2 separate regions of the Homo sapiens genome follow, and region 2 is linked to region 1. The links come from fine-mapping of genetic effects on gene expression. A gene starts in region 1. The other region holds a variant in brackets. All regions are shown on one strand. Distances are from middle to middle. Region 1 holds the start of CLHC1 (clathrin heavy chain linker domain containing 1). Region 2 overlaps CLHC1 (clathrin heavy chain linker domain containing 1).

Evidence for each region.
Region 2: its variant is fine-mapped to the expression of CLHC1 in cerebellar hemisphere (GTEx, PIP above 0.99).

What each region holds. Positions count from the first base shown.
Region 1 is chr2:55,230,950-55,233,861 of GRCh38, reverse strand. It overlaps CLHC1 (clathrin heavy chain linker domain containing 1), which reads left to right and starts at 1,569. Exons shown (of 13, transcript NM_152385.4): 1 at 1,569-1,639. It overlaps RPS27A (ribosomal protein S27a), which reads right to left and starts at 1,174. Exons shown (of 6, transcript NM_002954.6): 1 at 1,154-1,174; 2 at 990-1,054; 3 at 445-499. The coding sequence starts at 1,037. RefSeq lists enhancers at 895-1,074, 1,095-1,524.
Region 2 is chr2:55,210,783-55,213,694 of GRCh38, reverse strand. CLHC1 (clathrin heavy chain linker domain containing 1) reads left to right here. Exons shown (of 13, transcript NM_152385.4): 5 at 889-1,022. Among named protein-coding and RNA genes, the nearest start is that of CLHC1, 20 kb to the left of the region's middle. The variant A/G (reference allele first, on the strand shown) is at 1,540.

The sequences.
Region 1 (2,912 bases):
TGTGAAAAGTTCAAAACCAGCCTGGCCAACAAGGTAAAACCCAGTCTCTACTAAAAATACAATAAATTAGCCAGGCATGGTGGTGCACGCCTGTAATCCCCACTAATAGGGAGGCTGAAGCACAAAAATCACTTGAACCCGGGAGGCGGAGGCTGCAGTAAGCCGGGACAAGCGAATGCACTCCAGCCTGGGCGACAGAGGAGACTCCATCTCACACAAAATAAATAAATAAGTGTCCAAATTCACGCAAGTGAAATACACCTCAAGGATTCCAATCTAGGTACTGTGCTCCCCGATCACCAATGTCTATTGTGTTATTCCACAAGTATTTCGCTTTGTCAATCTGACCCCTTCCCCCATCACCAAGAGCAGGTATGTCTAGCACCTACAGGTAGGCCGAAGTCTCCGCAGGTTAAGTTTTCTTAACTACAAAATACTACTTGCCTTCCTTATCCTGGATCTTGGCCTTTACATTTTCTATCGTATCCGAGGGTTCAACCTATGAGTGTTAAAGTGAAAGCATGTTGGTTACACATTAAGGAACTACAGCAGAACTCATTTAGTTTGACAATTACCACTGAACCGAACCAGCGACAGGGCTGAGACCTACTCGAGAGACCTATTACCCACCCAGTGGGCAACCTCCCAAGTCGGCTACCGGAAAGCACCTTCATCTCCCCAGCCCAGAGCGGGCGGCGGCCGCAGGGCCACACGTGCTCGCACCCGGCGGGCAGAGCGTCTCCTTCCCCACCGCAGCTCCTCCGTTTTAACTAACTAGCTGGAACCCCTCGAGAGGAGACAGGTCCAGCCTTTGGCCACCGAAAATCACCTCTAGGTCGTTGCTCAGCAAAAGGTACTCATTTCAAAGCTTAAGTTTTAGAACCCAAATTCGGAATCATGGTCTAAGACATGGAAAGCAGCGCCGGTCCTAAAATCCACCTCAGGACCTTATTCGGACCTTGGCTTCCTCATGACCACCCGGCCCGTACCTCGAGGGTGATGGTCTTCCCCGTAAGGGTTTTCACGAAAATCTGCATTTTGGTGGCGGCTCCACCTGAGGTTGAGGAAAAGGAAGAGACAGGTTAGGTCAGGGATCACAAGAGAAGGCACCATAGGGTGCTAACCCGAGAGCAGCCGAAGTGCAGACACCCACCGCAGATGGCGGATCGAAAAGGAAGAACGCCGCGCAGGCCCACGGGGTTTCCCGGAGCTCCCGCCGAAGGACCCACCCCTTAGGCGACCACACCAAATGCCTGACTGCCGTCCCAGCGACAATCCAACCCGGTGCCAGACTAGGACGTGAACTTCGTTTCTCCTCTCCCTAGCCTGGGCTTATTTCTCACTTTAGCCTTCGGAATGCTTTCGAAACTGTAGGTTTAAGCAACGTAAAAGATGTTTTAAAAAGGCTTTTCCCGTACAATCAACGTGGCTAAGAGAATTTTTAAAAGGAGGTCGAGGGGGGCCTCTTGGGGAAGAGGTAGGAAATGGAAGTGCATTCTGGGAACTGTAGTTCTCCACTGCTTTCTTCTACCTTGGACTACTTGTCCCAAGATGCAGTTCCACCTCCCAGATTCCCTAGTTACTATCTCTAAGCACTGAAGTCGGTGTTTGGAGAAAAGGACTCAGGTGAGGACTGGAGGTAGGATGAAGCGGAATAATGGTTTCCGGAGCGTGGGAACGGGCCGGAAGTGACTAGAGCAAATGTTAAGCGGGGGGCAAAGGGTGCGGGGCACGAAAGGTGTCCTTCACTCACTTCCAGAAGCGGTGATGGGCAGAGAATCAGCAATCTACCAGACGCTCCTTGGGCCTTCAAGGGAAGGGAATTTGCGTGGCCTGCTCCAGGCAAACTGAAAAATAGGTGAAATCTGCGGAAGCGGGGGTTCAGCCCTTTCTCTCCTGTAGCGCCTCCCTGCTTTCAACCGCCGAGTCTCTCCCAGCCTAGGGAAGAGTCTGGGTCTTGTGTGTCACTCCTTAGTGTGACACGCTTTAATATGTTGAAAAATCTCAGGAGTTTTCAAATTTTAAAGTGAAGCCGTACGGAAAAGAAACCTGCAGAATGGTTATTTAGTTGTAGAATTTCCAAATTTGGGCATTGGGAGTCTTGGATCTGAGAGGAAGTTTTTGGAGTATGTATGGGGTGCTTCTTCCGGCAAGGAGGCCAATTAGAAGCAAGTTCTCCCTGTCCTTTCTCCACTCCACAAACCAGAGTCCTTTCTAATGTCTTCTGTATTTATTTCTTCATCCTCTGCCCTCTGCGACCCCATCCCCAAATTCAGACCTTAATTTTCTCTTGTAGGGGTTCCGAATCTAACTCCTTATCTCTCTCCAGTCTTTCCTCCTTTCTAACCCACCTTCACTATTGCCTCCAAAATATTCATTCTGAAAGGTAAATGTGTGTTATTATTTTATACCTCACCTTCAGGATACAATTCAAATTTCTTAGAATGACATTCAGCCTCTGCCTTCCTTACAACCTAATCTGCTAAACCCATTACTCTACATTTTAGTAAATGAAGCTAATTTAATTTCCTGACCTATGCCCTCCCGTGTTTTGGCATTTCTGAAGAATCCAGTCGTTTATTCTTCCTGGAACTTTTTTTTTTTTTTTTCGTGAGACGGAATTTCGCTCTGTTGCCCAGGCTGGAGTGCAGTGGCGCGGTCTCGGCTCACTGTAAACTCCGCCTCCCAGGTTCAAGCAATTCTTCTGCCTCAGCCTCCCGAGTAGCTGGGATTACAGGCGCCCACCACCACACCCGGCTAATTTTTGTATTTTTAGTAGAGATGGGGTTTCACCATGTTGGCCAGGCTGTTCTCTAGCTCCTGACCTCAAATGATCCATCCTCCTTGGCCTCCCAAAGTGGTGAGATTACAGGCGTGAGCCACCACGCCCTGCCTCCTGGAACATTTTTCAT
Region 2 (2,912 bases), 20 kb after region 1:
CATAACTAGGAAGAAAACTTCAAATAATGCTTAAGAGAAGTTTATACTACCTTTTGGTCTTTAAAATTTTCATTTCTGGATAAACTTAGTTTTATCTCAGGGAAGTGCTGTCCTTCCTCTAGCTCTAGGATCAAAATTACTGTAGTAGGCTCAATAAAGTTTTTCAAAGACATCAGGTCCTAGTCTCTAGAACCCCTAAATGTTAACCGTATTTGGAAAAAGGGTCTTTGCAGATGTGATTAAAGATTTTGAGATAGGGAGGTTATAAAAGTAAGCCCTAAATATGATCATAAATGTCCTAATAAGAGGGAAACAGGAGCTTTGCCATAGGCAGAGGAGAAGGCAGTATGACCATAGAGGCAGAGACTGAAGTGATGAAGTCAGAATGCCTGCAGCCCCAAGGCTGGAAAAGGCAAGGAACAGATTCTGAAGGAAGCACGGCTCTGCCAACACTTTGATTTTGGTCCGGTGATACTGATTTTGAATTTCTGGCTTCCAGAATTGTAAGAGAATAAATTTCTGTTGTTTGTAGTCACCAGGTTAGTGGTAATTTATTACAGTTGCCACAGGAAACTAATATAATTACTTACCAAAATATTTTTTAAATTACAAAAGTAATTTTCTACTAAAGAGAATAGTTTGTGGCCATATTATTGTGATTAGCACTTAACGAATTTCCAATAGGGTTCAGAATCATAGTATGAGATTTTATTGATGCTCAGAAAGAAAATTCTTCCTCATTTGTGAGGCTAGATAACTTTTTCAGGGCATTTCACCTAGTCCATAATGGTTCAAAATAAAGTAATGATTTAACCTGTTTGACTTTAGGTTTTGTGGTTCAAGAATTAAGTTAGTTGAAAGACATAAGAAAGCCTTTCTGTTTTCCAGAATGAGGATTATCGAAAGTAATTCCTCGAAGATTCAATCTCAAATAGATCACATCAAGCAGTGTAGGGCAGAGTATGACACAAAAGAAGTAAAATATTGTACTTTCTCCAAAGATCCTTCAAAACCTATTCCAGGTATTGTATTTTGTTTAAAATATTTGAGAGAAATCCTGATTATTTCCAATTTTTACCTAAGGCATGCATTAATATAAATGTGCTGATGTATGTGCATCTTGCACATGTGTGTGTGTTGTACACATAATTTTAGTCAGGACTGTAGGTAGATTCAAGGGAATGGAAAAACGAACTCTAAAAGATTGAGTTTCAGTCAGCTGGGTTATATAAAGTGTAATGCAGTGGCTCCTGAAGTATGGTTTCCTGTATCAACATCAGCATCACCTAAAGACCTCTTAGAAATGCAAATTCCTGATTCCCATCAGATCAGAGACTTAACTGTGTCAGAAACTCAGTGGGTGGAGTTCAGCAGTGTCTTAACAAGACCTTCAGGTTTTTCTTTTCTTTTCTTTTTTGAGACCTAGTCTCTCTCCGTCACCCAGGCTGGGTGTGCAGTGGTGTGATCTCGGCCCACAGCAACCTCCCTCTCCAGGGTTTAAGCGATTCTCGTGCCTTGGCCTCCCAAGTAGCTGGGATT[A/G]CAGGCGCGTGCCACTGTGCCCAGATAATTTTTGTGTTTTTAGTGGAGATGAGGTTTCATCATGTTGTCCACGCTGGTCTCAAACTCCTGGGCTCAAGCGATCCACCCGCCTCAGCCTCCCAGAGTGCTGGGATTAAAGGCATGAGCCACTGTGCCCAGCCGCTTCAGGTTTTTTTGATGCACTCTAAAGTTTGAGAACGACTGGTATAATATAAGGAAAACTGTAGTGTATTAAGTTTTGGTGGATATTGTTGATTCATGTTGATGTCAGCATTCACTGCTTCCACATCTTCAGCATAATACTGTTACCACATTTTAAGAAATTGTAGTATATCCTGGAATTCATCTAGGATATGGAGAGGTTTTTACGATGAGTGGATAGAGGAATTACAGATATTCATCCTGGAAAAAAGAAAGACTTTGAGAAAAGATAATGGTATTCCAAACTTTTAAAGATTTTGGCTAGTGTTTATTCTGAGGCAGGATTAATAGGTAGAAATTTTAGGAAGCCAGATTTGGTCTTGGTGGAAGAAGCTGTGTGTTGAAGTAATGAGCTACTCTATACTAAAGGATTTCAAATGAGGTTGAATAATCATCTTGTGTTTCATAAAAGTAGGGACTAGATTCACTTTCTTTTTTTTTTTTTTTTTTTTGGAGACATAGTCTCGCTCTGTCACCCAGGCTGTAGTGCAGTGGCCTGATCTTGGCTCACTGCAAGCTCCGCCTCCTGGGTTCACACCATTCTCTTGCCTCAGCCTCCTGAGTAGCTGGGACTACAGGCGCCTGCCACCACGCCCGGCTAATTTTTTTGTATTTTTAGGAGAGACGGGGTTTCACCGTGTTAGCCATGATGGTCTTGATCTCCTGACCTTGTGATCTGCCCATCTCGGCCTCCCAAAGTGCTGGGATTACAGGCGTGAGCCACTGCACCTGGCCTAGATTCACTTTCAAATATAAAATTGTGACTAGCAAATGACGAATAAGATACATATTAATAAGTACAGTATAACTGACAAATTGGGACTAAGTGCTGAGAAAATTCTGGGTAAGGGACTGGTTAAAATTAAGTAGAATCAATGCAGGTAAGTTTCTGGGGGAGGAGTATTTTGTGATATGTACTAAAGTCAACAATTGGCCCAGATGAGAAAGGAGGATTATTTAGGGCTGGGCACAGTGGCTCATGCCTGTAATACTAGCACTTTGGAATGCTGAAGTGAGAGGATCTCTTGAGTCCAGGAGTTTGAGACCAGCCTGGGCAGACCCTGTGAGAGCCTCTCTCTCTCTCTCTATATATATATCTACATATTTTTTAAAGGCATTTGAAGAGAAAGAGAGAGAGTTATGAATAATAAGTAGACGGGAGAGTGAGAGAG